Homo sapiens: one gene and its partner. The protein of the gene in region 2 purifies or fractionates together with the protein of the main gene of each other region. This does not show direct contact. Each region holds a gene or a part of one and is shown on either strand. Other genes may lie near its edges.

Evidence for each region.
Region 1: the proteins of RANBP17 (region 2) and TCERG1 purify together in Homo sapiens (affinity purification with mass spectrometry; one large-scale study listed by BioGRID and IntAct). This does not show direct contact.

What each region holds. Positions count from the first base shown.
Region 1 is NC_000005.10:146,453,833-146,457,332, reverse strand, and holds part of TCERG1 (transcription elongation regulator 1), read right to left. Parts: intron 2,816-3,500; exon of another isoform or gene 2,771-2,815; coding exon of another isoform or gene 2,769-2,770; intron 2,278-2,768; coding exon 2,052-2,277; intron 151-2,051; coding exon 1-150. UniProt on the Homo sapiens protein: Transcription factor that binds RNA polymerase II and inhibits the elongation of transcripts from target promoters. Regulates transcription elongation in a TATA box-dependent manner.
Region 2 is NC_000005.10:171,239,518-171,243,017, reverse strand, and holds part of RANBP17 (ran-binding protein 17), read right to left. Parts: intron 2,091-3,500; coding exon 1,876-2,090; intron 337-1,875; coding exon 198-336; intron 1-197. UniProt on the Homo sapiens protein: May function as a nuclear transport receptor.

The DNA of each region.
Region 1 (3,500 bases), about 25 Mb from region 2:
CCCATCTGGAGTTTTATTTTCAACCCATATCTCCTCCGTAGGAGGTAGTGCTGGAGTACCAGGAGCAGTCACAGGAGGCATTCCTGGTGGAAACATCATACCCGGAGGAGGAGGCATGGAACTCATGGGAGGAGGCATGAAAGGTGGTCTCTGTTAATTCACAAAAACAGTAATGGTCACTTTAATTACTTTTCCTCCAAATTATTACTGAATTCTATTCAAAAGTAAAACACTGTAAGAGAAACTAGTTTTATAGTCTATTCAAACACATTCACCTGTCATAGAAGCAAAATGTCTGCAACAAAAATTACCAAACAAACTAGAAAGAAACACATCAAACTACTAATAGTGGTCAACTCTGGGTTATAACACTGTCAGTGAATTCTGCTTTCTCCTTTCTACATGATCTGATTTTCACACACAGGGCGCTGGATTACTTTTTTTAAAAAATTGATTTTTATATCCTGTTTTAATACCAGGCACATCACTGTCTCCACAGCTTCTTGAAGAATCCTTCAAGAAAAAGTTTTCACTGTGCATAAAAATGAGTTTCAAAATTAAAAATTTGACATTATGACATTATAAAAACATTTTGAGCAGGGATTTAAAAGATTTCCTCTATAAGCTGTAAGTAACATTAAAATTCAATTATCAAAAGCAGCTTAATCTGGATAATGGAACTCAAACTATGCTAATAGTGTGAAGTTGTACTTTATTTTCCTAAAAATGTCTTTCCCATACTCCAATCTTTGCTGGATTCAGTTGAGTATCTTTCAAGCGTCAGCACACCAGATCTAGGTTATATAAAATATCTATCCCAAATACGTTTCATGAGCCCTTGGCTGAAAATCACTTGGACTTAATATAAAGCCAAACAATTATCCAAGACCAAGAAAGGCATGACAACATTAGAAAGTATCTTAGCACAACATTTGATATATTTCAATGAGAGGGTTACATTAGTCCATTACATTTTATAATACTCCAAAGTAGGTTTAACTCTTAAAGTCACAAATTAGAACAAATTCACGTTAAAGATTATACCAGAATAAGTTAAAAAAACTATTTCTTATTCTAACCTTGAAGCAAATATAAAACCATTTAACAGTGTGTTTAAAGGAAGGAGAGGCTATTCGTTATTAGGAAGGCCATAAAATTATTAAGCAAAGTATTAAAACCTGTCTCTTCCATAACCACAACCCTACCTAAACAGAATTAACATCACTTAAATGGCACATCATTGTCTTCTTCCATTTTTAGTATAATTCATTCTTCACTGTCTAAGCTAATGGAAGGCAGATGATACCACTATATTTATTTGGTTTCAGAATTATACAGACTAAACTAAGAAAACATAGATACATACTCAAAAAGAATACAATCCCAAAATGAGACATTTGAGAGTTCATACCTTCATGACCTCACCTCAGACAGTAAGTCTGGATACACTGGAGAAGGATCTATGCCCCAGGTTAAAATACCATAAATGTTTTTATTTAAAGAAATCCCATAATAAATCGTTTTCAAAAAGAGTAAGATAACCCTATTTTCCCCCCAGGGGAGAAAAAAAATTCAACTATGTGCTTATAAAATGTGTTTGCTGTCACTTTCCAGATTCTATCCTAGGCACCATTTCCAGGAGGAAGACTTACTCAGGAACATATACACATATATTTTTAGACTTGCTGGCAACATATATCATTGAAAATAAATTTTCTCCACTCAAAAATATCTTAAAATTTCAAACTTCATTTCCCATAAAGAAGATGCATTACTAAAGCCAATTCACAGAGCTAAAGGTAGGTAAAAACTATTGAATCCTGGTTTTATACACATACTTCTCTATCACCATCTAAAGTCCTATTCTGAATTTCCATAGTAATTACTGCTACCACTAATTCAGAAGAAACATATTAATATATGGATCTTCTCTTTAGCTCCCATTTTCCTATAAACTGAAACTATTTAAGAATGTAAGTTTTTAACTCAAAACCCATATATAATATTGATAATGATGCCAACAAAGAAATGGCAACCTCTACATTCTTTACCTGGAGGTGTGGAGGGCCCATAGGTGGAGGTATCCCTCCTGGAGGAGGCATTGGCGGCATATTAGGATCAAAAGGAGGACGTCCAAAGGGCGGCCGTGGTGGTGGAGGAGGGCCTCGCATCATACCAAAAGGTGGAGGAGGTCGCATCAGAGGTGGTGGGCCTCGCATCACTGCATTTGGTGGGGGAGCCGGACCTCGGAACCTCAAGGCCTGCTGTTGGGCCATCCTGCATGGGAAAGCAAGGAATAAATTTTTCTTTCTTAAAATTACAAAAATGTAGCTACTGATCTCTAATTACATCCATCAAATTTAAAAGGTTCTTAAGTCTAAGTGGAGTTGGAAAGTCATCATTTTGCAACCGTCATGATAAAAACTACATCAATGGGCCGGGTGCAGTGGCTCACATCTGTAATCCCAGCACTTTGGGAGGTCAAGGCAGGTGGATCACCTGAGGTCAGGAGTTTGAGACCAACCTCGACAACATGGTGAAACCCCATCTCTACTAAAAATACAAAAATCAGCCAGGTATGGAGGCGCACGCCTGTAAGTCCTGCTATTGGGGAGGCTGAGGCAGGAGAATCACTTGAACCCGCAAGGCAGAGGTTGCAATGAGCCAAGATCAAGCCACTGCACTCCTGCCTGGGCAACAGAGCAAGGCTCCATCTCAAAAAACAAACAAACAAACAAACAACCAAAAAAACAAAAAAAAAAACTTACATCAATGGATGATCTAGTTTTGGATGAATGATCAATGGATGCCGAGTCTAGGCAAAAATTTAGACAAGAGGGTTATCTGATGGTCTTAAAGTATTTACCCACATGCTGCTTAAAGTTGCAAGAAAGGATGAAAAAAAAAACACTCTACATAATCTACGTAATAAGGAAATTAGGCAATACCTTGACCCCGTGATCAAAACTAATTATCATCTAAGAAGGACAGATAGATAATGTGTGACTGAGAGAGACACGACATCACCTATTCCGACCAAAAATGTATAACCTCAATCTAACAACGAGGAAAGTATCAGACAAACTCAGAATAAGGAAGGAATGTTCTTTCTTTTCTTTTCTTTTTTTTTTTTGAGACCAAGTCTCACTCTCTTGCCAGGCTGGAGTACAGTGGCATGATCTCGGCTCACTGCAACCTCCGCCTCCCGGGTTCAGGCGATTCTTCTCCCAAGTAGCTGGGACTACAGGCATGCGCCACCATGCCCGGCTAATTTTTTTTTTTTTTTTTTTTTTTTGTATTTGAGTAGAGATGGGGTTTCACCATGTTGGCAATGGTCTTGATCTCCTGACCGCATGATCTGCCCTCCTCGGCCTCCCAAAGTGCTAGGATTATAGGCATGAGCCACAGCGCCTGGCCGGAAGGAATGTTCTATTAAAAGGGGGATGTGTATTCTTCAGATATGTCAATGTTATCCATAAAAGACAAAGAAATGTTGTGGA
Region 2 (3,500 bases):
TGATTAAAACATAACTGACTATGTATCAAAATATGAAGAAATACATTTTTCCCACTTGCAAGTAATAATTATAATCTTTCAGTTTGGGTTCACAATATCTTTTCCCCCTTTGTAGGATGATAGTCTCAATAATCACATACATTAAAAGCCCATAATCAAGTTTTTCCTATGGAAACAATGTCCTCTATGATCCTTACCAAGAGTAGTGAGTCCCTCTGAGATAGATGTGAGAACATACATGAGTACAGGAGGCTCTAAGTTGATGATGAAGCTCATATGGTCCTGAGTGAGACATTCCAGGAGTGGATAATAAGACTGGCTCAGTTTCCGGTATTGCTACAACACAGAGATATACTAAATGTCAAGCCACAGAGAAGAAAAATACATGTTACAGTCCAGTGAAAATTGTCATTTATAATACTGGAAATTGTAAACTTATTTAAACACAAGGTCAATAAATATATAGAGCAAATGACATAATGAGTCCCAATCCAGCATTTAAAGGGGTTCTGATAGGAATCGCTTGATCTCTTTACCTTATATGGTTAGCACTTAAAAGTAAAATCCCTGCAGTACGATATTTAGAAGACTGTGTGAATTATTTTTCTGGATTGGAATACTGTAACACTGAACAGTGCTTAACAGTCGCTAGGAAACCTTTTTTTTGTTGGTTTTTTAAACACAAAGACATTTGCTGTTATAATGGGATTTGGCACCATAGTCTGTTGTATTAATATAATGCTAATCCATCTAACTAAATAATAATTTGGTAAAGGGCTTAATATTTACCATACACTACAGGCAAAAGATAAGTGCATGAGAAAGATACCTGAAAAATCTCAAATGCAATCCAAACCAGTATCAAAGAAACACACTTGTAAGATAAATTAGAGAAGCTGGGCATGGAGGTTCATGCTGGTAATTCCAGCTACTTGGGAGGCTGAGGCAGGAGAATTGCTTAAGCCCAGGAGTCTAAGAACAGGCTGGGCAACACAGCAAGACCCTGCCTCTAAAAAAAAAAAAAGAAAAAAAGAGAAACCAGAGGAGCATTTCTTAAAGTGATGTTAAGACCAACTCAATAGGAATCACTTGGGGTGCTTGTTAAAAACGCAGTTTCCTGATCCCCACTTCAGACTCGCTAAATGACAAGCTCTAGTGTAGGCTCTGAAATGTATATTTTTAACACACGTTAAGAGAGTCTTATGCACCTTCAAGTTGGAGAATTACTGAGTTGAAGGTTTGTTTGACTATTAGAATAAAAAAATTAGAGAAAAATTCTTGGAACCATACCAGTTGTCTTGGTGGACTTTAACTGTAGTGAAGTAACTCTTTGATGAGGTGATTTTAACATATGGCTGATTTGACTCAAGTTTCTACTTTGTAATTTCTGTCTAACAGACATATCCTTCAATGATCATTCCATTCTACTACAAGGAAGTCCTCTCTTTGGCTTGAGATGCAGCCATTCCAAGATTAGTTTATAAAGGTGGAAGATGATGCACTAGTCCACTAGGAGATCAAGAAGCATTTCTTACACAGGTTGACTAACAAAGGCCTTCCAGATTTTACTTGTAACCTTGAGTGGGAGCAGGTGGGAAAGCCTGAACTAAGCCTAAGCATGATTTGGCTATGTTACTCAAGTAATTACTGCTACTACATTGGGCACATATTGGTTTCTATATAATCAGGCAGAGATGCTAAAAAAAAAAAAAAGCCACTATAGTTTTCCAAATTCTGTAAGTTAGATCAAGTATGCTGTCTTAAAACATAAAATGTTCTAGGCTAACTCCCTGGGCTTCATTATAACACTTCCAGGCCTGTGGTGGTGTTACTTCACATTTCATACAAACACTCCCATGATGCATGATTGCTTACTAGCAAGTCACTGTGGGACACTGACAGCAGCATTTTGACAAAAGCCTGGAGTACATTGTCAAAATGGTTGTCCCCATACAACTTGAAGACGCCAAAGCTGACATAATTTCCACACAAGGCAGACTTGAGAGCTGAATAGCAGATGGAGATGCCCTTGAGTTTCATTGGATAAATCTGATCTTTTGAGAGGCTCCCAAGGGACAGGATCTGATTACCTGTTTCAGGATAAAAGCAGAAAGTGACATAAGTAGATGTCATTCAAAGTAGTTATGGGACACACTATTTAACATTTTTACTTTACTGCTAATGTTCACTTCCTCCCAGCATATTTTTAAGAATTTTTTTTTATTCATTGTAATAAAAAATATAAATACATATGGCAGTTTACCTGGAAGTACAAAAGGCCCAAGGAAAAATCAATATCCTTATATTGGAAAAGCTCTATATTTTTATCTGCATGGTGATTACACAGATGTATACATAGATATGTAAAATTTCATTAAGTTGTACTCTTAAGACTATTCATTTTACTCTATGTGTTATCCTGTCAGTAAAAAATTTTAAAAAGTAGGATAAAACTAAGTCAAGAGAAAAAGATAACCTGACTGAGATGTAAATTACCCTAAATTCTCGGCAAATTTTTGACCTTTTATATGAATTTGATCTTGAGTTACTTCATTTTTAGGAGCCTCACAGGTTTGGTATACGAATTCAATGAAATAACACACACAGAAGTTCTTGGTGCAGTGTACAGTAAATATTACTTCCTTTTTCTTCTTAGATCCTTCTTCAGAAGATCTCAAGAGATGATTGTTTTAAAAATTGTACTTAAATTCTGCGTTGACCATCAGAAGACAAAGAAATGTTTGTATGATCACCCTAAAATCTTCTGTAGTACAGTTAGCATTTACAATCAATGATTTCTGTTTCTGAAATGTGTGCTAGTAAGTATGTTACTAGGCAATACTTGATAATGTTTTAAAAAAATATAAAGTAATATATGTTTCTTACCTCTGCTTTTTCCTGGTCAAATGAGTATTGCTTCTAAAATTGAAACTAAATTCAATTTACAAAATTTAGAAGTATAATATAGTGGCTTACACTGTGTCAACTTAGCTAACAAGAATTAAGTTTCTTAGAATCCACTTCCCTTTATGGTTGTGGGCTAGAATTGGCCAAAAGAGACATTTGTGTGAGATTTGGATGCTGGGAGTGGAGTAGCTGCCATGACTTTTTAAAGGTTGCTGTGGTTAGAGGTGGTAAGAGTAACAGGTAGAAATGCTGCTCGGTTTCACTTTGTCCTTGTTCTTCCTTGTCCTGTTTGTGTCTAGAACTACCAGCCCTGCTGACCAATATCTCCAAGCCCACCACCAAACAGGTGGTAGCACACTTACAGAAGCAATAGCTATGCAGACGCAACAGCCTTCTACTGACTTCTATACCATAACACCAGCTACCTTCTCACCCCTAATCCTTTCATAGTTCCACTCTAGCACCTAAATGTGCCTGGTTTCTAGATTTCCCTGCAAATTCCAACTTGTCTATGCCATTATTTCAGGAGGGCTGATCAGTGATATTTTTCCCCTGAACCTCCAACTCCCCACTTTGGCCCTATTTCCCCATCT